Homo sapiens: one gene and its partners. The protein of the gene in region 2 purifies or fractionates together with the protein of the main gene of each other region. This does not show direct contact. Each region holds a gene or a part of one and is shown on either strand. Other genes may lie near its edges. The genes, in order: ATP8B2, MCOLN3, GRAMD1A and DAGLA.

Region 1 (7,022 bases), about 69 Mb from region 2:
TCTCCTGGTTTTTCCGCGGGCGGGGGTGTGTGTGTGTGAAAGCGGTTGCCCCCGACAACGCCGGCAGTCCGCTCACCCGCATTGGCCCGGCCCGGGGGTGGGAGGGGAGGCGGGGCTCGCGCGCGAGCTTTCGCCTACGCGGCGCGCTGGCAGGCTGCGGCTCCTGCAGTCGGGGAGCGGGCGGGGGCGGAACCCTGGGCGTGCTCGGCGTGTCCGGGGCCACTCAGCGCACGCTGGCATCCGCCGGGGGGCATGGGGGGCGGCGGCGGCGGCGCAGCTGAGCTCGCGGTGTCCCCGAGCGCCGGCGGCCGGGAGGATGGCCTGGGCTGCGGGTGGGGCGCGCGCCCGACGGCTGGGGCTCCCCTCTGAGCGGCTGCGGCTCCTGCACCTCCCCGGGGAGCCGCCCCGTCGATGCCACTAAGGCCAAGGACATATAGACGGTCTGCCCTCCCCCACTCAAACCGGGATCATGACGGTCCCCAAGGAGATGCCCGAGAAGTGGGCCCGGGCCCAGGCGCCTCCCTCTTGGAGCCGAAAGAAGCCCTCTTGGGGGACAGGTAACGGGAGGCAGCGCCTGGCAGCTCTCCCGCACCCATTATTTCCCCCCTCCAATCCCTACATTCACTTGTCCCCAGCCTCCCCCTACCTGCCTTGATCCTCTTTCCAGACCCAGAGATCCTGGCTCCGAAGGATCCAGTCCCTACCTTCTTCGTTTGCATGGTCTTTGGTGATTGCGCAGGGGACTTGGCCCAAGAGAGCCCCTCTAGGGAAGTTTATGGGAGTGAAGTGGCTTGGTAGGCAGGGGGCACTGTGGCCTGGGTTTTGTTACTGCAGTGTGCTCTGCAGGGGTCCTGGGGTGTGTAGAAAGGGTTCTGGAATGCTGTCTTTGGCTCCCGGACAGGCTTAAGGCATTAGGTTTGCTGCCTAACCAAGTTACCCCTTTTTGCAGCATGAGGTCATGGTGACCCCCGGGGAGACGGGCTGGGGAATCTATTATAGGACAGCTCCTTGTTCTGGGACATGAATTTGATGCCTGCAGTCCCAGACCTGCAGAGGTTTCAGATAGGTTTAGCTAGATAGGTGTCACTAACTGAGTGACAGATGAGCCCTTTAAAGCTAAATGTGTGCAGATGGTACAAGGAAGGTCCAGTTAGAGAGCAACTGTTTCAATTACATTTCATTCCTCCCTCCTCTATCTCTATCTCAGTCTGCATGACCCATATCCCTGAAACGCACCCCCCACACCTTTTTCTACTTGAAGATGAGCTTTGAAATAAGGTGATGTCATTTCGGGCCAGTCAGAAGCAGTTGCTGGTGACATGTGACAACCAGAGGCTCCTGTAGGGGGGACTGCACATGGGGCTGGGATGCTCCCGCAGAGCAGCTCCAGGGCACAGGGAGCCTCCTTCTTGCCACCTACCCCACTCTCTAAATAAGGGAGAGAGCAGTACCGCGACTAGATCTGCAGTGGTCCCCAGGGGGAAGGAAGCTTTGCGTTTTCAGCGCTACTCCTTGATTATGACAATGTATGCATTAGTAATAGCAGCAAAAGGGGCTGGGGAATCCCAGGACTGTCAGTGGCTCAGATTCCTCTGGAGTGGGGGTGGGGGAGACAAACTGGGTGCTTCCAGTGGAAGACCTTGAAGTTTGGTGGTGAGGAAAAGAGAACATGTCCTGTCCTGTGAATGTAACCTGGAGAGCCGTGTGGTCAGGCTGCTGGTGAGAGGTGGACTGGAGGGAAGAATTTGATGACCCCCTCAGTTGTGGAGCTAACTCCTTAAAATGATATTCTGTGGAAAAAAACAGGGAACCCCCCAGCAAAGTGTTGGTCCAGACCTCAGTTTGCTCCTCCTGACTGCAGCATCATTTTGTTGCAGAAGAAGAAAGGAGGGCGCGGGCTAATGACCGAGAATACAATGAGAAATTCCAGTATGCGGTAAGCGACTCTAGACCACCTGTTCCCTCTCTCTGTTTGGAGAGGGGAATGGGGCAAGGACAACCTACCGTTGGGACTGAGGGCTGCCTGGGAAGAGTGCTTGGGGGAGGGGAAGCAACCTCCTCAGCCACTCTCCATCTGCTATCGTGCTGAATTTTTCATGCCTTCACCTGTCAGTGAAGCAGAATACATTGACCCCCTTGAGACTCCCTTCTCTCCTCCTCTTTCCCCCTCCCACACCTGTGTTTGCTAGCTTTTGGGGTAGAGGTCTGGGGAAGTATAAAGATGGGGGAGGCAGCCTCAGTCTGGTTCTGGGTTGGGACTGGAGACTGCTCATTATCTTCTCTCCTACTGCCATAGAGTAACTGCATCAAGACCTCCAAGTACAATATTCTCACCTTCCTGCCTGTCAACCTCTTTGAGCAGTTCCAGGAAGTTGCCAACACTTACTTCCTGTTCCTCCTCATTCTGCAGGTAGGTGACCCATAGTAGATTTTTTGCAGCTCCCCAAACTGAATAAAGCCAAGGAAGAGGAAAGGGAATGAAGGCATCAGATGGGGCCTCAGAGGCATACTTCTCTTTCTTTTTTTCAGTTGATCCCCCAGATCTCTTCCCTGTCCTGGTTCACCACCATTGTGCCTTTGGTTCTTGTCCTCACCATCACAGCTGTTAAAGATGCCACTGATGACTATGTGAGTGGTTTTCATTCTTCTATTTTGTCCCAGTCACCCACCCCTACTCCCAGCCCCACCCCCATCTCATGGCCACCTTCATCCAGCACAATTTCTTGGTGACCTTGACATCCCTTACCCGGTCCAGCTAGATCCATGATGTCTTTTTGCTGAGCGTGGGGAGAGGGAATCAGGGAGTGAACTGGTTTGTGATGGGGTGTGTATGAGGCGTTAACCAGCATGCTCTGAGTTCTACTGATCAACGAATTCCTTCGAGGCGGGGGAAGGTGTCTTACCTTTCAGTTTTCTTCTTTTCAGTTCCGCCACAAGAGCGATAACCAGGTGAATAACCGCCAGTCTCAGGTGCTGATCAATGGAATGTGAGTGCCTGTTGGAGACAAGAGCTCTGGGGACGAAGGGGGTCCCTTAGGAACCTCTTTAGCTCCTGACAGCCTCTTCACTGTCTTCTCGTTGCCTCAGCCTCCAGCAGGAGCAGTGGATGAATGTCTGTGTTGGTGATATTATCAAGCTAGAAAATAACCAGTTTGTGGCGGTAAGGGACAGGGTACCCCTCTAGGCCTGTAGGTTCTTCCTCTTCTTTGTGAGAAAAGGATGAATCTTTCCTGATTTACTGTTGCCTCTTAAACACCCGTGGCAGGAATCTTTCTCACACCAGGGGCTTCTGTGTCATGCTGATATGCCTGGAACTAGCCATTTATGCACCTGGAACTAAGCAAACCAAGAATGCTTAGTGGAAGGAGCCACCATTACAGCCCACTGGGGGTGGAGGTTTGCATATTTGGACTTCTCATTAGTTTTTCTCTCTAGGCGGATCTCCTCCTCCTTTCCAGCAGTGAGCCCCATGGGCTGTGTTACATAGAGACAGCAGAACTTGATGGGTAAGTGGCATGCTCAGTGTCAGCCCTCTCCTTCTGTCTCTTTGGAGGTAAAAAGATTGTCTTTGAATGAGGTTCTCAGGCCTGGGCTCTGTCTGAATTTGGAAAAATTAGGGGTAAGAAAGGCTTTGGATGGGATGTGTGAAGTGTTATTCAACCAGTATTTGCTGGGCTGAGCAGTTATGCACCATGCTTAGGTGTCACCAGGTAGAATTTAGAGGATGGGGAGAGGTGGGCATGGTGACTCACTCCTGTAAATCCCAGCACTTTGGGAGGCCAGTGTGGGAGGATTGCTTGAGGCCAGGAGTTTGAGACCAGCCTGGGCAAGATGGTGAGACTTCATCTCTATAAAACAAACAAACAAAAAATTTAAAAAGTTTAAAACTTAGCTGGGTATGGTGGTTTTAATGCCTATAATCCCAGCCACTTGGGAGGCTGAGGCGGGAGGATTGTTTGAGCCCAGGAGTTCGAGGCTTTAGTGAGCTATGATTGTGCGACTGCACTCCAGCCTGAGCAGCAGAGCGAGACCCCATCTGTGAAAAAAAACATTTAGAGGATGAGGAGGGAGCGGGGACTCAGAGATACTGTCCTTCCAGCGAGACCAACATGAAAGTACGTCAGGCGATTCCAGTCACCTCAGAATTGGGAGACATCAGTAAGCTTGCCAAGTTTGACGGTGAGTAATTTTGGAGGAGCAGCCTGAAGGTAGAGGAGTGGGGTTGGGTTTTGTTTGGGGGCGTTAAATTATACATTTTCCTTTGGGCTTTTTGTTGTTATTATGCAACTCCCTGGACTGTTTTGGGGAGGGGAGTGTTTGTAATGTCATGTGGCTCCCTCTTGGTTTTGAGTTTATAATTATTTCAAGGGGACTTTGTGGCTGATAGCTCCCCACTTGCTATGCATGTTGAGAGAAATTCAGCTTATTCTTTTAGCTTATTAGCTCAGAATAATAATATGTGTTCCTTATAAGACAAACCATACAGAGTGTATAAGAAAAAGTGAATAGAGGTCGGTACCATGGCTCACGCCTGTAATCCCAGCACTTTGGGAGGCCGAGGTGGGCGGATTGCCTGAGGCCAGGAGTTCGAGACCAGTCTGGTCAACATGGTGAAACCCTGTCTCTATTAAAAATACAAAAATTATTAGCTGGGCGTGGTGCTGCATGCCTGTAATCCCAGCTATTCAGGAAGCTGAGGCAGGTGAATCCCTTGAACCTGGGAGGCGGAGGTTGCAGGGAGGCGGAGGTTGCAGTGAGCTAAGATCGTGCCACTGCACTCCAGCCTGGGTGACAAGAGCGAAACTCTGTCTCAAAAAGAAAAAAAAAATACAAAAATTAGCCGGGCGTCGTGGTGTGCATCTGTAGTCCCAGCTACTTGAGAGGCTGAGGCATGAGAGTTGCTTGAACCTGGGAGGTGGAGGTTGCAGTGAGCCGAGATCGGGCCACTGCACTCCAGCGTGGGCAACACAGTGAGACACTGTCTCAAAAAAAAAAAAGAAGAAGAAAATAGCTCTTCCTTCCTCTTCTACCCTGCTGAAGTAGCCACATTAATTGACAGTCAGTGTGTGCTCATCCACACTTTTCATACATGTTTGTACAAACAAATATTAGGTCATGCTGCAGCTTTTTTTTTTTTTTTTTTTTAAATACTCCTGCCCAGGTTGGAGTGTAGTGGTGCGATCTCGGCTCACTGCATCCTCTACCTCCCAGGTTCAAGCGATCCTCGTGCCTCAGCCTCCCGATTAGCTAGAATTACAGGCTCCCACCACCACACCCGGCTAATTTTTGTATTTTTAGTAGAGACAGGGTTTCACCATGTTGGCCAGGCTGGTCTCAAACTCCTGACCTCAGCTGATCCACCCGCCTTAGCCTCCCAAAGTGCTGGGATTACAGGCATGAGCTGCCGCGCCCGGCCTGCTTCATTATTTTCCTGAAGAGTTGCATCAGCTCACACTCCTCCCAGCAGCATATGGATGGGCCCTTGCCCTTGCATCCTCTTCGCTCAGCTCATTTTCTCTTTGTTTTATTGTCTTGTGGTTAGGCTGTAGACTGGACCTTAAGCAGTGGAATTCTTGTCTCCTGTTCAGGTGAAGTGATCTGTGAACCTCCCAACAACAAACTGGACAAATTCAGCGGAACCCTCTACTGGAAGGAAAATAAGTTCCCTCTGAGCAACCAGAACATGCTGCTGCGGGGCTGTGTGCTGCGAAACACCGAGTGGTGCTTCGGGCTGGTCATCTTTGCAGGTGAGCCTCCTAGCATCCAAAGAAAGAAGGGTAAGAGTGACTCAGCCAGCCCTCACTCAGGAGTATGGGATGAGGTGGGAGAATACCTAAGGTAAAAAACCTCCAGCTGTGTATACAGGCTTCTTATCTAGCCAGTATCTCTATTCCACCCTGGTGTCCTGCAGTCTGGGGATCAGGGCAGAAGCCCAGAGGCAGATGTGTTATTTGGCTTTCCCAGCCCTTCCCATTCTTTTCCAGGTCCCGACACTAAGCTGATGCAAAACAGCGGCAGAACAAAGTTCAAAAGAACGAGTATCGATCGCCTAATGAATACCCTGGTGCTCTGGGTGAGGCGCCCCACATCTGGCTCCCTGCCCCTGCCCTCTCTTCTCCTTGGGTGCTCCTTTTCCTTTCCTCTTTCTTCTTTGGTCAGTAGACTTCAGGTTTGGCTTTAAAGCTGCTAGCAGGTCAGCTACACAAAGGCAGTGTTTATTTTAGGCTCCTTTTAGTTGGAAGATGTTATTTAAAAAAACTTCAGGAACGTGCATGAATCAACAACTTAAAGCTAAAACAAATCATCCCTTCTCTGATTCCAGTTATGATGATGACTTTGTGAAGCATGTGACCTTCTGTTTGCTTTTGCCAGGGACAAGGAGGCCTTCATGGGGATGGAGAGGGAATTAAAAGAAAAATTTCCATTTGGAAGAGGTTGGCAGGGTCTTTTCCCCCCAACTTCTAAGAACGAAGGATCCCAAAGGAAAAGTTTCTGTTTAAGTTTTTGGCAGTTCCTGAATCCTTCTCTTGTTTAGCTAGAAATCTGAACTCCTTGTTGGGCTCTCCTCCCCTTCCTGTGCCCCGACTGTCTGCTGCCTGCCCGCCACATGCCAGCTTGTGAAGGCTGGGGCTAGCCTCTGGTGAGCTTGTTTCCGCCCTGGCTTTAAAGAGTGTGCGGAAACCCAGCCTGGTGGGCGAGGTTGTCTATCACATAAGGGCTCCAGTCGCCCCCTGGTGGCCATTGGGCACCAATCTCCTATTTTGTTTCAAAGCCTAAACAGCGGAGGCAGCTTTGGAAATAGATGTAGGAAATTGGACAGTGGCCTGGTTTTTTACCAGTCTCTCCAGAGACTCCAAAATTTATAAGATTTTTGACTAATCAGGAAATCTAGACCAGGAGTGGTGGCTCACACCTGTAATCCCAGCACTTTGGGAGACCAAGGTGGGAGGATCATTTGAGCCTAGGAGTTCGAAAACAGCCTGGACACCATAGTGAGACCCTGTCTTTACAAAAAACTGAAA
Region 2 (7,022 bases):
TGGCACTGATGGCAGGAGGCAGATAAATTAGGTGGGGGTTTGTGGAAATTCTGTTTTTTTTTTCTATTATTTTTGTGAAATAGGAAGTAAGGTCATCAGCTTAGAATGAGGATAGGACAAGGGTATTAGAGGTTTCAGAAGAGAAGAAAACATGATATGATCATCTATGAGGCAGAGACGGTGAATGGTCTAGAAAGATATTTTGTTGGATACCATTTAGGGTTCACTGAAATTAATGATAGTTGAGGTTGGTAAAAATAAAGATTTGCTGCAAATCTCTCCCCTTACTCCTTTTTTTGTTTTGGTTTTTTATTTGTCCCTAAAGTTAAACATCTATTCCAATGATACATACTATAGCCACATATAGTGGCAGCTGCTAAGTGTCAACCTAAACCCATTCTCCCCTTCCTAGGCACATGCCTGGGCTGTGTTCCCTGGCTCCCTCTGCAGTTAGGATTGACTAAATTCTATCCAGTGGGATATGTACAGAAATAAAGTCGGCCACTCTTGAGCCAAGCCATCAGTCTATGGGAGAGCTTCTACCATACCGTGTTTTTGCTTCCCATAAGCTGCAACCTGTTTGAGGCAACACGGCAATAATCATGCAGTCAGGGCAAGTCCTTAAGGGGTGGCAGAGAAACAAAATGGGAGGAACATGGGTGCCTGAATGACTGTGAGATGTTGAGCTACTCACCAGTCTGTAAAACCCATTCTGACTATTGCATAAGACAGAAATAAGCTCCTATCTTCTCTGAGCCATTGCATTTGGGGTCTCTGCCCAGGTTTATAACCAACTCCCCAGGTGACTCAATCAGTTGCATCAAGACTAGGGAAACATAAGTTTGAGCAAGATTAGTCTGAACACTATTAGTTTTTTTAATGTGATTTTTATTTTGTGGGGACAGTTGATTTTTAGGCTAGGTTAGTCTTAAAATAAATAAGCTTGTAGCACATCAATGGTAAAGTAAGAAAATGGGAGCATTCTCACTTTGAATGGACGGAGGAAACAAATGCAAGCATGCACACCATAGTGCCTTGACCTCACTTTCCCCTATAGCCCCACTCATTTTTGTTAAAGATTCGAGCATTTCTTGTAAGATTAAAAAAAAAAAAAAAACTCTTACCTTAGTTACCTTGGTTGTGTATGAATTTTGGTGTGTGTAAGAATTCACAGGCCCCGCCGAAGAGTCTGAATTCAGTAGGTCTAACATGGTACACTTTACCAGGCACCCAATGATTCTGATGCAATGGTTTGTGGATCACACTTTGAAAAACTCTGCCTAAGAGACCTCCTGACTAGATTTAAGAAAATTACCATTACCAATTTCAAGTCTACTTGATATACAGTTTGGAAGAAACAATTCATTCTGAAAATTCTTACATTCTGGAAAAATACATTACCATTAGTGCAAATCTGACACTAACAATAGCATGATTAGGAAAAAAATTACCTTAGCTTGGATTTCCATTTTTAGAATTGATCCAATGATTGTCAATATGTCACTAATAATAATCATAATGTACCATCCATTGACAAATTCCATTTGATCAGAAACAGAAACTTCCTTCTTATAATGGAGGAGGAAAAAATTGACAAACTCCTTTAGGGAAAAGAGGGGAGGCACAGTGAATGTCTCTGTCAATCAAAATGTCAGTAGCATTCCTAGAAAGCAACGTTCCCTACCTGCTGAAGCTGAAGTCCTCTAATCACAGATCTAATGCAGAGGATTAATGAAACCAAGCAAGTCAGAATGACAAAGGCATCAAAGATCATCATGTAATGAGTGTTCTTCTGAACTGAAAGCAAAGAGGATTACATAGTGCTTATGTAGTGGGACATTAATATGGTGACATCTTCTTTTTAGAATCATTTAAATAATTCAAGCATTCTTTCTGGTAAGACAACAAAGAAGCCCTGATAAACGGTCTTCCAATTAGTATTTGAAGAAGGGCAAAAGTCTTTCTTTTAAAAAATCACCACAACTGAGGCTGGGTGTGGTGGCTCATGCCTGTAATCCCAGCACTTTGGGAGGCCGAGGCAGGCGGATCACAAGGTCAGGAGATCAAGACCATCCTGGCCAATGCGGTGAAACCCTGTCTCTACTAAAAATACAAAAAAATTAGCCGGGCATGGTGGTGAGCGCCTGTAGTCCCAGCTACTTGGGAGGCTGAGGCAGCAGAATGGCGTGGACCTGGAAGGTGGAGTTTGCAGTGAGCCAAGATCATGCCACTGTACTCCAGGCTGGGTGACAGAGCGAGACTCCATCTCAAAAAAAAAAAAAAGAAAAATCACCACAACTATCATTCCAAGATCTTTAATTATAAGCCTGTAGTCTTTTGTTCTTAATACAATTACCTCCCTGCATATTCTTTTTTTTTTTCCTCAGCCTCCCTCGTAGCTGGAACTATAGGTATGCCACCATACCGGGCTAATTTTTAATTTTTTTGTAGAGACAGGGTTTCACTTTGTTGCCATGGTTGGTCTTGAACTCCTGGTCTCAAGTGATCCTCTCACCTCAGCCTCCCAAAGTGCTGAGATTACAGACATGAGCCACCATGCCCAGGCCCATCTCCCTGCATATTCTATTAAAATGTACTTATCTAGGTATAAAATATTTATTATGCATTCACTATGTGTCAGGCATTTTTCTAGATGTTAGGATACAGTGGTGAACAAGATAGACAAGGCCCTTGATCTGTGGAACTTCTATTCTACTACAAAGAAGTAAACAAACACATAACAAAATACTTTCAGATAGGAGTAAGTAATAGAAAGAAGATAAATCACAATAGCTAACATGTATTGAGCACATTTCTTGCCAAACATAGCTCTAAACACTTTATATGTGTTAACCTATTTGATCTTCACAGCAACTCCAATGAGGTAAGCATGATTATCCCCACTTTGCAGGCGAGAAACCTGAAGCACAGAGAGGTCACATGATTTCCCCACAGTTGCAGGGCTAGTCAGTGAAAGAGCTGGGGGAAAATCTGTGCAGTTTGTTTCCAGTGTCCATCACTCTATGTCAGTGGTTCTTGGCATTTTTTGGGAGCTTGTTAGAGATGCACATTCTCAGGTCCTACTCCAGACCCACTGAATCAGAAACTGGGTTTCTGCAAGCCCTCCAGGTGATGCTAAAGTTTGAGACCTACTGCTCTATATGAGGGAGGTTAGTGTCGGGCAATGTGGAAGCAGAGAGGTTGATTTATATTGCATAGTAAAGGAAGGCCTCACTGAGGGAGCAGGGGGTTTTAGCTGAAACCTGAGTGATAAGAAAGAGCCACCCTTATGGAGATTTTGGAGAATCGAAAGTGCGAAGTCCTGGCCACCATGCGTGGAGCCAATGGAGAGAGGTGGGCAGAGGTGTCAGCCATTGTACACTGCCACAGAGCTTGTCTCTATTTAACAAGTTAGACTGCTCTCTGCTGACAAAAAAAAGAAAGTACTTAAAACTAGCTCTGTGATGAAGCATCCCATTAGTATCTGCCAAGGAGCATAATTACTACATAAATGTCTAAATTGACTTTAGAGAAACTTACAAATTAAGAAACAAACATTTGAGAGAATGCCTAGGTGCCAGACACTTGTGTATGCTGTCATTTTCCTCATTCTGGTGTTTGTGGAGAATGATTATAAAGTATACAGATGACAAAACAGGCTTATGTTTCAAATGTGACTCAAGAGCCTCATATATTTGAAGTTACCTATTAGTGAAAAAAATACTATCATGGCAAAATTTCATTTTATTTACTCTATCTCATTATTACGTCTGAACTTGGCAAATCAATTAGTAAGAAACTTTAGAACTGTGATTATCCAAGTATAGTCTGAGTAAGGACTATTTACACATTTCTAGGCCCCACCCCAGACCTACTGGCTTGCATAGAGCTGGGGAAACTGCATCATAGCAGGTACCCAGGATGATTCTTCTGCTGATTAGAATCTGAGAACTCCTCATCTAGCGACCATTAAGTCCAGTACGATGTACCATTATGTCACTTATGAGAGACTAGAAAATTAGATAAATTCTTTCCAGGCAATTCTCTCCAGTTCAGCTCCAAAATTCTTGACAGTATTTGGTCTACACCTGAATTTTTGTCCATATTTCTAAGAGTAGATCCTTTCCTCTTTCAGTACACTTTTAAATGGACTGAAGACAATCATAATATGTGGGATGCTGCAGGGTCACATCCTACCTGACTTGCCCCTGGCTTCTGAGCCTTAGTTTCTTCATCTGTAAAAATAAGGATTCTCCCTATCTTAAGGGCATTTAAAAATATTAAAATGAAGAAAACTAAGGTGGAAGTAGGTACACAGCATGCACTCGGTAAGTGTTGGTCTGGGAAGATGTATGTAGGGTTTTGGTGGCGGGGGACTGTGAGTACATTCTTGGTCAGGAGTGGGCAAGTGAGGGCACAAGGAGAGGAAGGCCATTTCAGTTATTCATGACTCACATATTGCCTGAAACATCAGAGTTGATCTACTTGTAGAGGTTTAGGGACTTGAAAATGGTCTAATCTTCTATTTGTTGTTCTAGATATCCAGAGGGTGCTATTTTAATAACCATTTTACATTATTTAATAACCATTCTGAAAACTAGTAATGCGCATCACTTACTTGATCCAGATACATGCCAGTCTTTACATTCTCTGATGGAAATGTCATTATCTAAACTTATTTTAATTCTTCCACTATGGGCCTTGTTGTCAAATGTTATCTGTGAAGACAGGAAAACAGTCAAAAACATACTTATAGTTTTGGAGCCAAGAAACCTCTACACATTAATTAGGAAACAATTCTTTCAAGGGGACAGGAGACCCAGATTCTCAACTCTGATCTGTTGCTAATTCTGTTCAACCATGGGAAGTTCTCTTCATTTCTCTGTGAAATGAGAACGATGAACTAGATCTTCTACAGAGACCCTGTAGTCTCTAAAACATTATATGTCTAGGGCAGCATTTCCACTCCAAAGAACTTATATAACAAGAGCACTTCCTCTTGCTCTCTGTTCTAAGTACCTCCAGATACCTTCTTCATGTGAGCAAGAACTGGTACAACTGTGCTTTCTCCCAAATTCCGGCAGGACCTCAGTTAGGGGTAGATTTTTAGTGCTGCTATAATTCTTACTAATACAAAGGCTCATTATTTCTGCTTTGAGACATTTCAAGTGGAGCTTTTTTGATTTTTATTCTGGGCCTAGATTTCTTAGTCACGTTGGCACTACATGTATTATAAAGGGTTTGGTGACAGGGAGTCAACAGTCACATCTTGCTTCAAGAATAACCACTTCAGGACACCAGGGGCCAAGCAGGACAAAGCTAGGCCAGAACACCTTCCATAGTTTTCCTACTGTCTTCCTTATGCAAGGACAGGGAAGGCAAGGCAAGAAAATCAATCCGTTTCATTTCTGCCTCTTCTCTTTCTCTCAAGTCCTGAAGAAAAAAAGTTCTTTGAAAACTTTGTCATTTAAATAAATTGTATTGAAGCTTCTCCATATGGGGTAATCAGAAACACTTCAAATATAAGATTTCAAATGACTTTTAAAAGTTCAACCACTGTATTTCTCCTCATGAGGGATTGTAAGCTTCTTTCTTTGACAAGCAACTGAGGGCACAGTCAGTGTCTGCCCATATCCCTAACGGCTGCAAGACCCAGCCTATGGCCTCGTGCAAGGAGGACGCTCAGTGTTACTTGATTGAGTCAGAAATCCTTGCTACGGAGAAGCCATGCTTTTCCTACACAAAGGGCCTCCAACTTGTACAAATAATAGGTGCTCACTAAATATCTATTGAGTAAAAAACTGGGACTTAATGTCAATCACATCTCAGTAAACTGAATCCCAAAGAAAGAAGAAAAATAATGGATGGGATTAGAAAACATTAGATAGCACAGAAGAAAAAACAGTGAATTTGAAAATATAGCAACAGAAAATATCCAAAATGAAACACACTGAAAAAAACTGAGACATAAAACAAACAGATCATTACTGAACTATGGGACAACTCCAAGTAACCAAATACAGACGTTTTTGTCTCTGAATCTCTGAAAAGGTGGGGGGAAGTGACAAATATATTTTAAGAAAATCATGCTGAATAAATATCAAATATAATGACAACTATAAACCTACAGATCCAAGATGCTCAATGAACCTTAAACACAGGAAACATTAAGAAAACACCATCAAAGCATTTCACAATCAAATTGTTTTAAAGTAAGAGATAAAGGAAAAATTTAAAAGCCAACAGATGGGAAATAACATCCCATAGATAAGAACAAAGATAAAGATGACAGCAGATTTCTCATTAGAAATAATGCAAGCTAGAAGCAACATCTTTAAAGTGCTAAAGAAAAAAACAGTCAACCTACAATTCTATAGCCAAGGAAACTACCTTTAGCAAAGGAAGGCTTGGAATAGAATAATGGTTACCAGAGGCTAGAAAGGGTATTGGGGAGGCGTGGGGGATAAATAAGAGTTCGTTAATAGGTATAGAGATACAGTGAGGGCCGGGCACGGTGGCTCATGCCTGTAATTCCAGCACTTTGGGAGGCCGAGGTGGGTGGATCACGAGGTCAAGAGATCAAGACCATCCTGGCCAACATGGTGAAACCCCATCTCTACTAAAAATACAAAAACTAGCTGGGCGTGGTAACGTGTGCCTGTAGTCCCAGCTACTCCGGAGGCTGAGGCAGGAGAATCGCTTGAACCCGGGAGGCAGAGGTTGCAGTGAGCCAAGATCACACCACTGCACTCCAGCCTGGCAATGGAGCGAGAATCCATCTCAAAAAAAAAAAAAAAAATACAGTGAGATGGGAGAAATAAGATCTAGTGTTTAGTAGCACAATATGGCAACTATAGTTAATAATTTATTTTATATTTCAATATAAATAGAGGAGTAGATTTAGAATATTCTCAACATAAAAAAGTGGTAAATATTTGAGGTGGTGAATGTTGTCCCAATTACCCTTATTTCATCATTACACACTGAATGCTGGCATCAAAATATCACCTGTACCCCATAAA
Region 3 (7,022 bases), on a different chromosome or scaffold from region 2:
ATGTAAGAATGGCCTAATACAGAGCTCCTCAGCCTGACACGCCAGCCCTTTTAGGACATAAGCATAGTTTTGGGGGCCTTGTAGCCCCCCAACACAAGGCACCATCTTCCTGACTGCAGGGGATACTGCATGTCTCATCAATACAGAAAAAGAAACAAAGAGAAACTCCCATCTGACACGCTCCTCCCCTGCTTGAATCTCTTTTGTAGCCTCCCAAGTTCCTTGGCTGGTCCCATGTCAACCCTTCAGCCTCACCCAGAGCTGTGGCTGCCCCTCTCCATACCTGGCTGCCCCATCCCAGCCTCAGGGGACTTCTCTCAATATTGGCCTCCAGCCTCAGGGCCTTTACTGGTATCACGCGGCCTCCTGGGCTCCTCTGCCCCGACCCCTTCCTTCCTCAGTTCCTCCTTCAGGCCTTGGTTTTGATTTCACATCCTCCTGGCAGCCTTCCCTTACCTTCCTCAGATCCCAGATACCCCCAGATACTCACAGCTTCTGCCCTTAACTCACACCATGCCAGTAGTGTGTGGTTTTTATTTATAGATATTTCCTGTTGTTCTCAAGAGATTCTGGGTGCTAAGGACAGGAGTTCATCTATCCTGGTCTCCCACTGGCCTCCAAGCCCTGCATAGGCCTGACAGAGTGGACATTAAATTTGTGATCATTAACACATATTTATTTATTTATTTATTTATTTTTGAGTCAGGTTCTTGCTGTCGCCCCAGCTGGAATGCAGTGGCACAGTCTTGAGTCACTGTAGCCTCTGCCTTCTGGGTTTAAGCCATTCTCCTGCCTCAGCCTCCTGAGTAGCCGGGATTATAGGCGCCCACCGTCACGCCCAGCTAATTTTTGTATTTTTAGTAGAGACGGGGTTTCACCGTGTTGGCCAGGCTGGTTTCAAACTCTTGACCTCAGGTGATCCTCCTGCCTCGGCCTCCCAAATTTCCCGAAGTGCTGGGATTACAGGCGTGAGCCACTGTGCCCGGCTGCCTCAGGGAGCTTTTGATCATGCTGAAAGGCAAAGGGGGAGCAAGTGAGAGAGAGTGGAGGGGAGGTGCCACACACTTAAATGACCAGATCTCGGAAGAACTCACTATCATGAAGACAGCAGCAAACCATGAGGGATCCGCCCCCATGATCCAAACACCTCTCACCAGGCCCTACCTCCGGCATTGGGGATTACAATTCAACATGAGATTTGGGTGGGGACAAATATCCAAACTATACCAAACTCAGACTCTGTTCTAGGGGTACTGGGGAGCCATGGAGTGTTCTAGGCAGAGAAGGGATAGAGTCAGGCTTGGCTTTAACAAGATGCCCCTGGACCAGATGGGGAGACTGAGGCCAGACACTCAAGGGAAGGCTGGCAGGGGCACTGGGCAGGCAAAGATGGGCTGAACCAGGAGTGACGCTCAGGAGGTTTGGTGAACACACAGTGTAGGTAACCATCTAGGGGTTTGAGTAGGGGGTGTCCAGGGCAAGGCCTACCGCTCCAGTGGGAGCCTGGAGGACCCTGGGCCACCCCTGAGTGGGGGCCTGGGAGATGCAGCAGGTTTGGGGAGATGCTGAGGCTGTGTGGAGCTCGGTGGGTTCGAGGGGTCCAGGGACCTTCCAGGGGAAGGTGTTCAAAAGATTACAGGTCCAATGCTCAGGGCAGAAGCCAAGACGGGTGCAGAGGGGGAAACTGAGGCTGCAGCAGTGGAGGAGATGGCCCTGCCCCAACAGCTAAGGTTTTAGGCTCCTGGAAGGAAGGTGGGGACACAGAGGAGTGGTGGGGATTGGGACAGGTCCCCAGAGAGACCTCCCAGAAGGCTGAGTCTCCTGTGGCCTGTGGGCAAAGGACTGGGGTGTGGCCTCCTCATGCTGCTCCTCCCTCCTCTAGACGTGACGCTGAGCCCCTGGAGTGGGGACAGCAAGTGCCACCAGCGCCGGGTGCTGACGTACACCATCCCCATCAGCAACCCACTGGGCCCCAAGAGCGCCTCCGTGGTGGAGACACAGGTGGGCCAGGTGGGGCAGCCGAGTGGGTGGGGCAGCTGGGTGAGTGGGGTGGCCCTGACTTCTCCGGCTCTGTCCCTGCAGACGCTGTTCCGGCGCGGCCCCCAGGCCGGCGGGTGTGTGGTGGACTCCGAGGTGCTGACGCAGGGCATCCCCTACCAGGACTACTTCTACACTGCCCACCGCTACTGCATCCTGGGTCTGGCCCGGAACAAGGCGCGGCTCCGGTGAGTGGTGGCTGGGCCCCTCCACCCGATGCCCTGGTGGCCCCAGGGCCTCCTGTCCACTCCTCAAGTCAGCAGCAGAGCCTTGGTTCCCACCCTGGTGGAGGAACAGAAGCGTGGGGTTCCTGAGGCCCTTGTCCTCCGAATAGTGGAGGGTAGAGGAAGAGTGGCCCTGGGATGGCTCCTCCCATCTACAGAGGGTGTTTGAGCCTCAAGACTCTGAGGATACAGCAAAGCCAGGCAATATCACCTCTCTCAGGGAGCTCATATTCTAGTGGGGAATTGGACAATAGAGAAATGATCAGGAAAATCTGCAGAACATTCACTGGCAGTTAGGCCTATGGAGAAAAATGAGGAAAACACGGCAGGCTAAAGAAGCAGGGTGTGGAGGCTTTTACACCCGACACGCTGGTCAGGGAAGGGCCTACTGGGAAAGAAATGTTTCACCAAGAACCTGAAGGAGCTGAGAGCAACTCATTTGGGACAGCAGGTGCAAAGGCCCTGAGGCAGGGGTGTGGGCAATGGCTGGAGTGGAGTAAGATTGAGTGAGTAGGAGCTGAGATTAAAGTGGTGAACCGGGGCCCGGCACAGTGGCTCACACCTGTAATCCCAGCACTTTGGGAGGCTGAGGCAGGAGTATCACTTGAGCCCAGGAGTTCAAGAGTAGCCTGGGTAACGTACGGAAGCCCTGTCTCTACAAAAACAATTTTTTTTAAATTAGCCAGGGTCCAGGTGCAGTGGCTTACGCCTGTAATCCCAGCAATTTGGGAGGCTGAGGTGGGCGGATCACTTGAGGTCAGGGGTTCGAGACCAGCCTGGCCAACATGGTGAAACCCATCTCTACTAAAAATACAAAAATTAGTCGGGGGTAGTGATGCACGTCTGTAATCCCTACTACTTGGGAGGCTAAGGCACAAGAATCACTTGAACCTAGGAGGTGGAGGTTGCAGTGAGCCGAGATCGGGCCACTGCACTTCAGCCTGGGTGACAGAGTGAAACTCTGTCTCAAACAAACAAACAAACAAACAAAAAACAAGTTAAAAAATTAGCCAGACATGGTGGAGATTTCAGTGAGCCATGATCACACCGTTGCACTTCAGCCTGGGCGACAGAGCAAGACCCTGTCTCAAAAAAAAAAAAAAAAAAAAAAAGGTGAACCAGATGTGGCTCATGGTGAAGACTTGACTTTACCTGGAGTGAGGTGCAACCAGGCCAGGGCTCTGAGCCAGGAGGGCGCTGACCTGACTCAGGTGGTCCCAGGCTCCTTCTGGCTCCCTCTGTTCTGGTGGGAACAGACTGCAAAGACAGGTACAGGAGCAGGGAGGCCAGGGAGGAGGCTGCTGGGACATCCAGGCTGGAGGGGACGGAGGCTGAATCAGGGTGAGGAAATGGAGGGGGAAGAGTTTAGATTCTGGAGAGATTTTGCAGGTTTAGCTGACAGGATTTGCTGAGAGATTGGATGTGGCGGTGAGGGAAAGAGAGCTCAAGGAATATCCCGAGGCATTTGGCCCAAATCACTACAACTTCGGAGCTGCCCTTGACCCAGATGGGGGCGGCAGGGAGGAATGGGTTTGGGGAAAGACCAGGAGGTCAGTTTGGGACTCAGCTGTCTATGTTGAGCTGAGCCCATGTGGAGCTGGGGTGCAGCAGCCGAATGGAAGAGGTTCAGGGGCATGGTCTGGTTAAGACGTCAGTCTGTGAGTAGACAGGGCTCAGGCCGCCGGGAGCGTTGCCCAGGTAGTGGGCATGGGTGGAGAAGGACCGAGGGCTGAGTTGGCTGGCATTTGGGCTGGGCGGGTGGTGTATGGGGTATCCAGGGAAGCCATGGGGGGTAGGGAACCCATCTGTTTTGTCTGTGAGTGACAAGGGGCCCTCTCTGAATTAGGGGAAGGAAAAAACTCAGCTTGTGGGACGGGGCAGCCAGGGCTGGAGTCAGACCCTTACCTCCTTCCCCTGATCTCCCAACCCCAGAGTGTCTTCTGAGATCCGCTACCGAAAGCAGCCGTGGAGCCTGGTGAAGTCGCTCATTGAGAAGAACTCGTGGAGCGGCATTGAAGACTATTTCCACCATCTGGGTAGGGACAGAAGGCCGGCTGGGGCGTGGGTTGGGGGATGGCCTGGCCAGGTATGGACATCCAGAGCCCCCTCTCTTTTACGCAGAGCGAGAGCTCGCCAAGGCTGAGAAGCTGTCTCTGGAGGAAGGCGGGAAGGATGCCCGGGGCTTGCTATCCGGCCTGCGGCGGCGGAAGCGGCCCCTGAGCTGGCGGGCTCACGGGGACGGGCCCCAGCACCCAGATCCTGACCCCTGTGCCCGGGCCGGCATTCACACCTCGGGTACGTTCCGTTGGGGCCGGGTTGGGGTAGGCGGAGGATCGGGGGTCCTGGACTGGGCCATCTGACTCCAAGCTGCTCTCCTGCAGGCTCCCTCAGCTCCCGCTTCTCCGAACCATCTGTGGACCAGGGCCCCGGGGCAGGCATCCCCAGTGCCCTGGTTCTCATCAGCATTGTGTGAGTAAGAGACAGGAGCAGTGGCCACACAGGCCTGAACCTGCCTCCTGGCTGTGTGACCTTGGGCAAGTGTGTGGCCTCTTTGAGCTCTCTGCTTAAGTGGGAGCGTGGGTTTGCTCACAGCAAGGATTAGACAAGGCAATGTTTGGGATGTGCCGGTTTGTCATGGAGAAGCCTTCCCTGCTAGAACAGCAGAGCCGGGGGGGGCTATGGGAGATCAGAGGGGCCTGACCTCACCCAAGGATCAAGGGGGGCTTTCTGGAGGAGCAGGCACACAAAGATTCTGGAATTAGGTGCACAGGGAGAGGTGTGCCTAACAAGTGAGGTCATTTATGGACATTATGTTCTCTGTGCCCACTCCTAAGCTGGGCGATGCTGAGGACACCGCAGTGACCTTGAGGAAAAGATAGACCTCACACCAGACCAGAGTGATCCGGGCTGGGATGGGGGAGGTATGGGCAGAGGGGTTGGGGCTGGGAGTGGGGAAGCCCTGGGAGGCCAGCGGCGGCTTCCTCCCAGGCCAGAGGGGGCAGTCAGGATGGGCGTCCTGAGAGAGTGGAGACCGCGTAGGCTAAGGGCTTGGGCAGGGAGAACCCACACTCCTGCCCAGAAGCCTGCAGGAGTTGGCGGGCAGGACGCTGGGAGGAAACAGAAGCAGGATCCCGGGGTTGAGCAGACCCTGCGAGGTGAGGGTCAGGCCAGCTACATGCTCAGCCTCTGAGCCTCAGCTCTCAGCTCTCATCCAGTGAGGGGGCGTGGTGCTCTCAGCCAAGAGCTGCCCCGGGTGAGGAGGGCTGGGGGTGTCGGGGGCAGGCCAGGCGGCGCTCATCTCTCTGTCTCCCCTCACTGCTGCTGCTGCAGGATCTGTGTGAGGTAGGGTCCCGAGTCCTCCCCCTGCCCTCCCCTCCCTGCACCCCACCCCTGCTGCAGCCTCTTCTCCCCACCCCATGCCCCCCAGCTCCCCCAGGGAGGTGGCCTGGCATGGCAGTCAAGGGTATGGGCATCAGACAGACCTGGGTTTGAACACTGACTTCCCTGCTATGGACTGTGCAACCCTAGGCATGTCTCTCATCCTCTCTGAGCCTAATTCTCCTCCTCTGCAATGGGGGATAGAGGTGTCCCTACAAGATGTAGTTGTTTGGGGGTGTTCAGAGCATCTAGACCCCAGGAATCCTGACCTCTGACCCCTGTCCCCAGCCTTATCATCCTCATCGCCCTCAACGTCCTGCTCTTCTACCGCCTCTGGTCCCTGGAAAGGACAGCCCACACCTTTGAGTCCTGGCACAGCCTGGCCCTGGCCAAGGGGTGAGTGGGTAGCCTGGGGAAATGGGGGGGCTTGGGCACATCGGGGGAGGCCAAGGCCCTGCTCAGGCCTGGCATCCCCACAGCAAGTTCCCCCAGACGGCCACAGAGTGGGCCGAGATCCTGGCGCTGCAGAAGCAATTCCACAGCGTGGAGGTGCACAAGTGGAGGCAGATCCTGCGGGCCTCCGTGGAGCTCCTGGATGAGGTAGGAGGCGCCGCTCGGGCAGGGCTCGGGGCTGCGGGGCTGCAGGGTCCTGTGTTGAAACCCCACCGTGCGGCAGGCACTTCCCCTCTCCGGATCTCAGTGTCCTCCTCTGTAAAATGAGGAAGCCGCTCAGAGTCCCCACCCCACAGCATTGCAGGGGAAAGCATGGAAGCATGGATGGAAGACAGAACTGATTGGCTCACGTCCTGGAGAAAAGTCCAGAGGCGTCTCACATTAGGCACGGCCGGGTTTGGTCACTCAATGGCAGTAAGAGTCAGTCTCTCGTGCCCACTCTGCCCTGTGCCCATCTCCAGGGTTGGCTTCATTGGAGGCCACCCTTTTCCCCCCACAGGGGACCACGGAGCTTACTCTCATTGGCTGCTGGGGTCCCAGGCCTACCCCTGACACATCACAACAGCCAGGGCAGGCCACGTGTGGTCCCTCTACCCGCTACCCCACTCTGGGGTAACTAAGGGGTCACATGGTCTGAAGGGGAGAGACTCTCCAAAGGACCTGAGGTCTCATCTCCAAAACGGAGTGGACCCAGACACCCAGTGTAGTTCAGGGACAATGTCTACTCAGACAACCAGGTTCCAATTCCGGTGTGTGACCTCGTGCAAGTGATTTTGCCATGGTGGCCGTGGACTCCTCTGTGCACAGGATAATGACTGATGCTACCTCAAAGACTGTTGTGAGGATGAGACAAGTTGACATTGGGAGTGGTGCCAGGCCTGCAGGAAACACTGGATGTGGGCTGGCTGTCCTGAGTTTGAGCCTAGTGCC
Region 4 (7,022 bases), on a different chromosome or scaffold from region 2:
CCCATCTTTGTCAGCTGCATGTGCCTGGCATTCTTGCCTGCATCCCTGGGAGTCCCAGCTGTGGCAGAGAACTCTTCAAAATGAGCACCAGGCTCCATTACTCACTGGTGGTGTGGGGACAGCTCTTAGAGCCTTTGTTTCCTAAACTGTAACAGGTGGTATCTGTCCTGCCTGCCCATAGGGTGTTTCAGAACCCAGGGTATCACTGGCAGGCAGGGCTCTCTGGTGCTCTGCAGACAGGAGGGGTGCTGGCATTTGTATTAGGTGCCTTAGTGTTGCAGAGAGAGCAGAGTCCCTAGACCTCATGAGGGCCCAGCCAGGCCCCTGCCTGGAAGAACCAGGTGCCTGTGGGGCAGAGAGAGGCAGGCCTGCAGCCCAGGGTGTTGGGAGGAGGCCAGAGTCCAGTGCCCCAGCCTGTCCATAACAGCCTGGCCAGAGGGAGAAGGGCTGCCCATCTGCCTCGGGCCCAGGCCTCTCCCCTGGCAGCAGTTCTCAGCCCATGCAGAGCACAGCGAGCCAGGCCTGCTTCTGGCTTGGCCCTAGCCCTGCCCTGGATGAGCCCCAGGGCCCTCCCATCCGGGGTGCTGGCCCTGCTCCCCTGACTGGTCCTCCTGGCCCACACATCACTGACTCAGAGGCAGCCCTGTCACCGGAGAAGCGAGGAGCCACTCGTTATTAAGAACCTATTATAGGCCAGACCATTTCTGCATCTTGGACCCTTGATCTCACACCAGCCTTGTGAAGTAGCTGTCACCACCTGCTCTTACAGAAGAGGAAACTGAGGCTTAGAATGGCTGAGTGACCTCCAGGCCCTTGCGGTCAGGAAGTGATACAGCAAGGGTTCAAACTCAAGCCTCCAGTCTCCAAAGGCCACACTGTTACAGCCTCATGCTCAGCTGAGGTTGGAGAGGGAACAGCTGCCGAGCACAGGAGCTCAGCCCCTAGACCCTGGCCCATCACCACTTGACCTGCAGTGTGGGGGACCATGCTCTCCCATTGTACATCGGCTTTGTCCCCCCAGCAAGCACTGTGGCTTTCTCAGCAAAGTCTCTCCCCATTGGAAAGTGTGTAATAGTCACTCAGGTGATGCTCTGAGTGAAGACAAACCTCCTAGCATCACCAGAATCCAAGCTTCTTAATAAAATCTCAGCTGTCATCCCGTGACAGCTGGCAGGCCCAGTCACGTGGGCTCCAGCGTCTGGTGCCTTAGCAGTTGGATGCTGGCTCCCTCTGGTGGCCTGAGGTGCCGCTGCACCTAGCTGGGTGCCCAGCTCCCAGGCTGCCTCATTCATTTCTGTGGGGAGGCTACTGTGTACCTGGCCCTGTTTGGGTGCTGGGGATACAGCTGTGGACCTCTCTGTGGTGCTCACTGCCCAGCGAGGAGGCGGACAGCGCATAGACAAGGCAAATAGGGCACATGGTGGAGCGGATGGGCACTTTGGACCCACATAAAGCCAGGTGCCTGGGATGGGGAGTGCTGGGGGCCTGGGGAGCCCTGGCTGTTAGATGAGGTGGCAAGAGAGACCTCACTGTGACAGGACGTTTGAACAGAGGCCCAGAGGAGCAAGGGCCAGGCCACGCTGTCTCAGGTGCTGCTGAACACGCTGGCAGCAGGTCAGAGAGACCAGAGCCAGGTGGGGTAGACAGGGCGTTGCTGTAGGGTCTTAAAAAGAAAATGATGTGGCTCAACTTATCTTAAAAGGGCCACTCTGTTGCTGAGCTGAGAGCGTAGGGGCAAGTGCAAGGAGGCCAGTCGAGGCCACCATGACAGTCCCAGGCAGAGCTGCCAGGGCAGGGGTAGGGGAGGTGAGGGAGTGCCTGGAGTCCAGCTCTGAGTCTGAAGGGAAGCCGAGTACGTGTACTGACCGAGTGGCATGGCCGTGGGGGTGAGGGCTGAGGAGCCACAGACAGTTGCAAGCCAGAGGCCAAGCCACCGAGGGGCCTTGGGAAGACCTCAGGAGGGTTGGGGTACACAAGCAGGGAAGGGGTTTGAGAGCTGGCAGGGTGTCAGGTGTCCGAGAGAGGTGCTGGCTAGGCCATTGGATGGAAGCATCTGGGTGTTGGGGCAGGCCTGGGGTGGATTCCTGAGCATGCAGATGGTGTCTAAAACACAAGACTGCATGAGTGCATGGAGGAGCCAGTGCCCCCAGAGGGACCCCAGGGCTTCAGTGTTGGGTGCATCGCTGAGTAGGCCCTGCCCGGAGGGGAGATCCCAGAGAGGAGGGGGCCCCAGCCAGGTGGGGAGAGGGAAGGGCCCACAGGGTCAGGTGCCGCCAAGAGCTCAGTTAAGAGGAAGGCTAAGAGTGGCCAGTGGATTTGGTGACGTGGGGGTCACTAGGACTTAGCAAGGGCAATTTGGTAGAGGCAGTGGGGCTGAATGCCCAACTGGAACTGGTTCCAGGGACAGTGGCAGGAGACATTTGTTCCCTCGGGGACTCCCTGGCCCTGAACTCTCTTGTCACCCCACCCTAGGTGTTGCCTGTGTCCTGCGAGGCCGCGGTTCGCCCCTGGAGTCACCATCGAGGAAGACAACTGCTGTGGCTGTAATGCCATTGCCATCCGGCGCCACTTCCTGGACGAGAACATGACTGCGGTGGACATCGTCTATACCTCCTGCCATGATGCGGTGAGGCCGGGCAGGGCTGGGGCCTGGTGTCAGGAGCAGGCAGCTGAGGGCCTAGGGTGCTGAGGCTATCCTTCCAGGCCGGCAGGAGCCCTTGCTTGGCTGGTGCTGGCTGGCTGCAGCTTCCAGGCATCCCTAGCTGGGCAGACCAGAGGTGGCCCCCTTCTCTTCCCCAGACCCTGGCTTGCCTGTACCACCTCTGGGGCTGGGAAAGCAGACATCAACCCCACACCCAGTGTTTGGGTTGCCGAGCCCTAGCCCTTTAGGGAAAGGAATTGAGGGCAGAAGCAGGGAGGGGCAGCCATCACCTGGACTCAGGGGCAAGTGGTGGCACTCAGGGCTGCCAGAGCCAGCAAGGAGCGGGGAGGGCAGGGCAGGCCTGTGGCTGGGATCGGGAGGAGATCCCCAGTGACCCTGGGAGCCCGTCAGCCTTTCTGGCGGCAGAGGCTCCGTGGCTGGTGGAGCCAGAGTTCCTGGCCAGGAAGGAGACCTGCCTAGGTCACTTTCCCTGAGTGTGGCCCCACCAGGGCCGCTCAGGCTCACGAGCTGCCCGCCTCCTAGGTCTATGAAACGCCCTTCTACGTGGCGGTGGACCATGACAAGAAGAAAGTGGTGATCAGTATCCGGGGGACCCTGTCCCCCAAGGTACGCTGCCCATGGCTCCCAGCCCCCGGGGGTGCCTGCCTCCCTCTTCCTGTCCTCTTTAGCCGCCCCCTCACCTGTCTCCTCTCTCCCCAAGGATGCCCTGACTGACCTGACGGGTGATGCTGAGCGCCTCCCCGTGGAGGGGCACCACGGCACCTGGCTGGGCCACAAGGTAACCCACGTCATGGACCCCAGGGCCCCTGGGCTTCTTTCCTGCCCTGCCAGTGTGCAGAGGCGTGTATGGTTGGGGGTTCCTCCCTGCTCGCTGGGCTCACTGGAAGAGATTGGTCAGAGAGGCATGAATTAGTCTGGAAGGCCCGTTGCGGCCCACTGCTGCGACCCCACTGCCCTGCACAGCCCAGAGCCTGACCATGGAAGAACCTGAGAGGCAGCTGCGGAGAGATCATACCAGCTTCATTAGCCACACTGCCCCTCTGAGCCTCAGTTCCCACCTGTGAAATGGAAGTGACAGGATCAGCGTGTCTGCCAGCCCCCACAGCTGGGTTGTCACGAGGCCCAAAGGGAAAAATGGATGGGGCAGGGTTCCTGAGCTGCAGGTCACTGTGGGTTTGCTGGTCACTGGGAGGCCTCCCACCAACACCTGCTTCTGTTCCTGCCCACCCAGGGTATGGTCCTCTCAGCTGAGTACATCAAGAAGAAACTGGAGCAGGAGATGGTCCTGTCCCAGGCCTTTGGGCGAGACCTGGTGAGGAATTTTCCATGGCACCAAGCCTTTTCACACCTGGGTCCCCCTCCTCCAACGCAGCACAGAGAGGAGAGGATGGATGGGTGATGGAGCCTCACAACTCCCACACAAGCCAGGCTCCTGCAATCCCTTCCAGCCTGGCTCCCAACCCCTCCTCTTTTGTGCCAGGTCCTGTGGGCATCCTGCTCCGCCCCACCTACAGTCATTGGGCACCTGATTCATGCCAGACACTAGAGGCACAAAGATGATTCAGGGCAGACGGCTTTTAAGCCTCATAGCTGCAGAACCGTTTGTCAGAAGGAAACATGGAGAGGCTCAAAATACAGAGCAGAGAGAAGGGGTGCTGCTCTACCTAGGGGGGAACTGAGTCCTGCCCACTGGCCACGGTCTGTGCAGGTAGCTCCTGAGGTGCCACCAGCTGCCCTTTCCAAAGCAAAGCAGGCTCTGGCCTCAGGAGACTTCAGTCTAGTAGTGAGGGTAGAGAGATGGGGTCAGGTAACCACATGTTTATAGTGATAAAAAGCTCCATCCCAGGTACAGATGCAATGACTAGAGGGAGTGAGCCACTCCTGGAAAATCAGAAGGGCTTCCCCAAGGACATAACCTCTGAGCAAGGTTTGGAAGCGTAAATAAGAGTTTATTAGAACAGTCTGCCTAAGCAGTCGCTCTGTGGGGCCCTATCTTGGTTCTCTGTGCCCTAGCATTCACACAGCACAGACAAGATCCCAGGACTCTGGGAAGATGGGAAGACCCTCTGCCTCCCTTGGGTTGGCTAAGACAGTCGCTTGGCGGGCATTGGGGCAGGGCTCTCAGGCTTCTCTCGGTCTCCAGGGCCGCGGAACCAAACACTACGGCCTGATTGTGGTGGGCCACTCCCTGGGCGCGGGCACTGCTGCCATCCTCTCCTTCCTTCTGCGCCCACAGTATCCGACCCTCAAGTGCTTTGCCTACTCCCCGCCAGGGGGCCTGCTGAGGTGAGCCATCTGGGGCTTCAGAGTTGGCTGGGGCAGTTGGGACCAGTGGAGGCTGAGGGTTGGCTGGTGCTAGGGGCTGGACTGGGAGTCTGACTTCTGGTCACATGGAGGTCTGGGAGTGGCCTGGAGGGTGGAGGGTGGGGGCTCTGAAATGCCATGCGCCCCCCAGGATCTACCTAGCAAAGCCTTACCAGTGGGAAAGACAGAGCAGGGAGCAGGCAACCCAGCCTGCCACCAGCCAGCTCCCCGGGAGCCATCCCAGGAGTGCAGGAGCAGGGCTTGCTTGTGGCTGGGCCCCCCGATTCCGGAACACCACCACCCCGCCCCCTTGGCCTTAGCTTCTGCTTCGGCTTCCCTTGCAGTGAGGATGCGATGGAGTATTCCAAGGAGTTCGTGACTGCTGTGGTTCTGGGCAAAGACCTCGTCCCCAGGTGAGTCCTTGGCCCCGCTCCATGGTCCCTTGCCAGGCTGTTCCTCCCTCCTCCAGGCCTCTCCCCACCCCCAGCCCCCGCATCTCTCTCAGTCCGATTCCTGTCTCTCAAGGGACCCCACGCCCCTCCCCACCCTTAGTTGCCCAGTGGTGAGAAGCCCAGGTGAACGCACGTGCTGGCGCCCGCCCTGCCTGTCCTCTCACTCCTCAGCTCTGCTCTGGGGAGCTGCTCTGTGGACACCTCTCCACCCCGTGACCCTGGCTGACGTGTCTTCTTGTTCCAGGGGCTAGGCGTGTGCCTGCCCCTCCGCCCCTGGCCCCATACCTCTCATAGCCGCTGACCAGGCCTGGCTGACGGCCCTGTCTCGTTCCCTCCCCAGGATTGGCCTCTCTCAGCTGGAAGGCTTCCGCAGACAGCTCCTGGATGTCCTGCAGCGAAGCACCAAGCCCAAAGTGAGCCCCCACCTGGGCACCCTGCCTCTGTGCAGCCTCATCTGTCCCTGCCCTTGACCCCCACCGGTTTCTTGGGACAAAGCACAAGAGGCCCTGCCATGGAAGGCCAGGGCAGGGTGTGGCTGGTGTTGTGGGAACTTCAGGAAGTCAGACCCTCAGCATCCCCAAGCTCAACCCATCCATCCCCTGTCATTGTGCAGATGGGGAAACTGAGACCCAGAGTGGGAGGGACTTGCATTTGCTCACATAAAAAGTTAGAACAGAATCAGGACAGGAACCGAGAGGCTCCCATCACACAGAGCTGGGAGCTGCCCACAGTCAGGAGAAAGCGATCTGGAGGCTTTGAGCGGTGAGGAAAGGCCTCTGCCGAAGCCTCTGAGATTCCCTAGGCTCAGGGAGGGCTGGGAATGACCTGTGGAGAGGATTTGGGTACAGTTTGTTCTGATTTTCTGCTGTGACCAAGAGGAGAGGGTCAGCCCTTCCTAATCCGCATCAGGTCTCTGGAGGACACTGGCAGACGGGGTGGCCAGGTGGGGGTGGGGACATGGTGGCCAGGCACACTGAGGCAGGCCAGCGCAGGAGGAGAGGGTCCTCTGTGTGGTCACCCCTCCTCACCCCCTGCCCCCCGCCCCCTGCCCCGGGCGAGCCCTCAGCCCATTCACCATCTCAGCCCCGTCTGGACCGTTCCCAGCTTTGGTGCCCTAGACCCTGTGGCAGGCAGGGCCCTGGGCCAGGTACCAGGTGCCAGGCAGTGAGCAGGGCAGCAAAGCTTTGTGGGACTTTGCCTGCCTGGAGGAGCCTGGTTCTGGGGAGGTGGAACTGCTCCCACCAGATTAGTCCTGGGCTTTTGTCAGGCCAGGCCTGGCAGGTCCAGCTGGACTCAACTCCAGGGTGTGTTTGGCCTCGGACTTGTGGAGTGATCCAGAATAAGTCCCTTCCCCTCACTAGGCCTGTCTCCCCATCTACTAGATGAGGGGTTGGCTGGGCTTCCAGCCCCTTGCCAGCCCTGAAATTCAACAATTCCATGTCATCTGTCCTTGGCACCTTATTGGCCGTCTGGCCACCGTGCACCTCAGCCACTGCCTCTTCAGGTGGGCACCGACCTTTAATGCTCTGGCCACTGCCCTTCCCCTGCCCCTTTGCCATCTTACTGCCCACCTCTCACCTGCTGAGCCCCCCTTCTCGGTCCCC

What was found.
Region 1: the proteins of MCOLN3 (region 2) and ATP8B2 purify together in Homo sapiens (affinity purification with mass spectrometry; 3 studies listed by BioGRID and IntAct, with this or other methods). This does not show direct contact.
Region 3: the proteins of MCOLN3 (region 2) and GRAMD1A purify together in Homo sapiens (affinity purification with mass spectrometry; 3 studies listed by BioGRID and IntAct, with this or other methods). This does not show direct contact.
Region 4: the proteins of MCOLN3 (region 2) and DAGLA purify together in Homo sapiens (affinity purification with mass spectrometry; 3 studies listed by BioGRID and IntAct, with this or other methods). This does not show direct contact.

Annotation. Positions count from the first base shown.
Region 1 is NC_000001.11:154,328,519-154,335,540, forward strand, and holds part of ATP8B2 (phospholipid-transporting ATPase ID), read left to right. Parts: intron 1-279; exon of another isoform or gene 280-469; coding exon of another isoform or gene 470-557; intron 558-1,877; coding exon 1,878-1,936; intron 1,937-2,296; coding exon 2,297-2,410; intron 2,411-2,529; coding exon 2,530-2,628; intron 2,629-2,925; coding exon 2,926-2,987; intron 2,988-3,087; coding exon 3,088-3,160; intron 3,161-3,435; coding exon 3,436-3,506; intron 3,507-4,099; coding exon 4,100-4,179; intron 4,180-5,588; coding exon 5,589-5,747; intron 5,748-5,984; coding exon 5,985-6,073; intron 6,074-7,022. UniProt on the Homo sapiens protein: Catalytic component of P4-ATPase flippase complex, which catalyzes the hydrolysis of ATP coupled to the transport of phosphatidylcholine (PC) from the outer to the inner leaflet of the plasma membrane.
Region 2 is NC_000001.11:85,024,488-85,031,509, forward strand, and holds part of MCOLN3 (mucolipin-3), read right to left. Parts: intron 4,719-7,022; coding exon 4,619-4,718; intron 1,798-4,618; coding exon 1,685-1,797; intron 1,602-1,684; coding exon 1,452-1,601; intron 1,297-1,451; coding exon of another isoform or gene 1,126-1,296; exon of another isoform or gene 70-1,125; intron 1-69. UniProt on the Homo sapiens protein: Nonselective cation channel probably playing a role in the regulation of membrane trafficking events. Acts as a Ca(2+)-permeable cation channel with inwardly rectifying activity.
Region 3 is NC_000019.10:35,017,309-35,024,330, forward strand, and holds part of GRAMD1A (protein Aster-A), read left to right. Parts: intron 1-1,882; coding exon 1,883-2,001; intron 2,002-2,082; coding exon 2,083-2,225; intron 2,226-4,193; coding exon 4,194-4,297; intron 4,298-4,382; coding exon 4,383-4,556; intron 4,557-4,642; coding exon 4,643-4,730; intron 4,731-5,591; coding exon 5,592-5,603; intron 5,604-5,927; coding exon 5,928-6,035; intron 6,036-6,118; coding exon 6,119-6,239; intron 6,240-6,388; coding exon of another isoform or gene 6,389-6,433; exon of another isoform or gene 6,434-6,477; intron 6,478-7,022. UniProt on the Homo sapiens protein: Cholesterol transporter that mediates non-vesicular transport of cholesterol from the plasma membrane (PM) to the endoplasmic reticulum (ER).
Region 4 is NC_000011.10:61,732,377-61,739,398, forward strand, and holds part of DAGLA (diacylglycerol lipase-alpha), read left to right. Parts: intron 1-2,472; coding exon 2,473-2,626; intron 2,627-3,184; coding exon 3,185-3,268; intron 3,269-3,362; coding exon 3,363-3,440; intron 3,441-3,893; coding exon 3,894-3,974; intron 3,975-4,805; coding exon 4,806-4,948; intron 4,949-5,310; coding exon 5,311-5,379; intron 5,380-5,758; coding exon 5,759-5,831; intron 5,832-6,800; coding exon of another isoform or gene 6,801-6,922; intron 6,923-7,022. UniProt on the Homo sapiens protein: Serine hydrolase that hydrolyzes arachidonic acid-esterified diacylglycerols (DAGs) to produce the principal endocannabinoid, 2-arachidonoylglycerol (2-AG).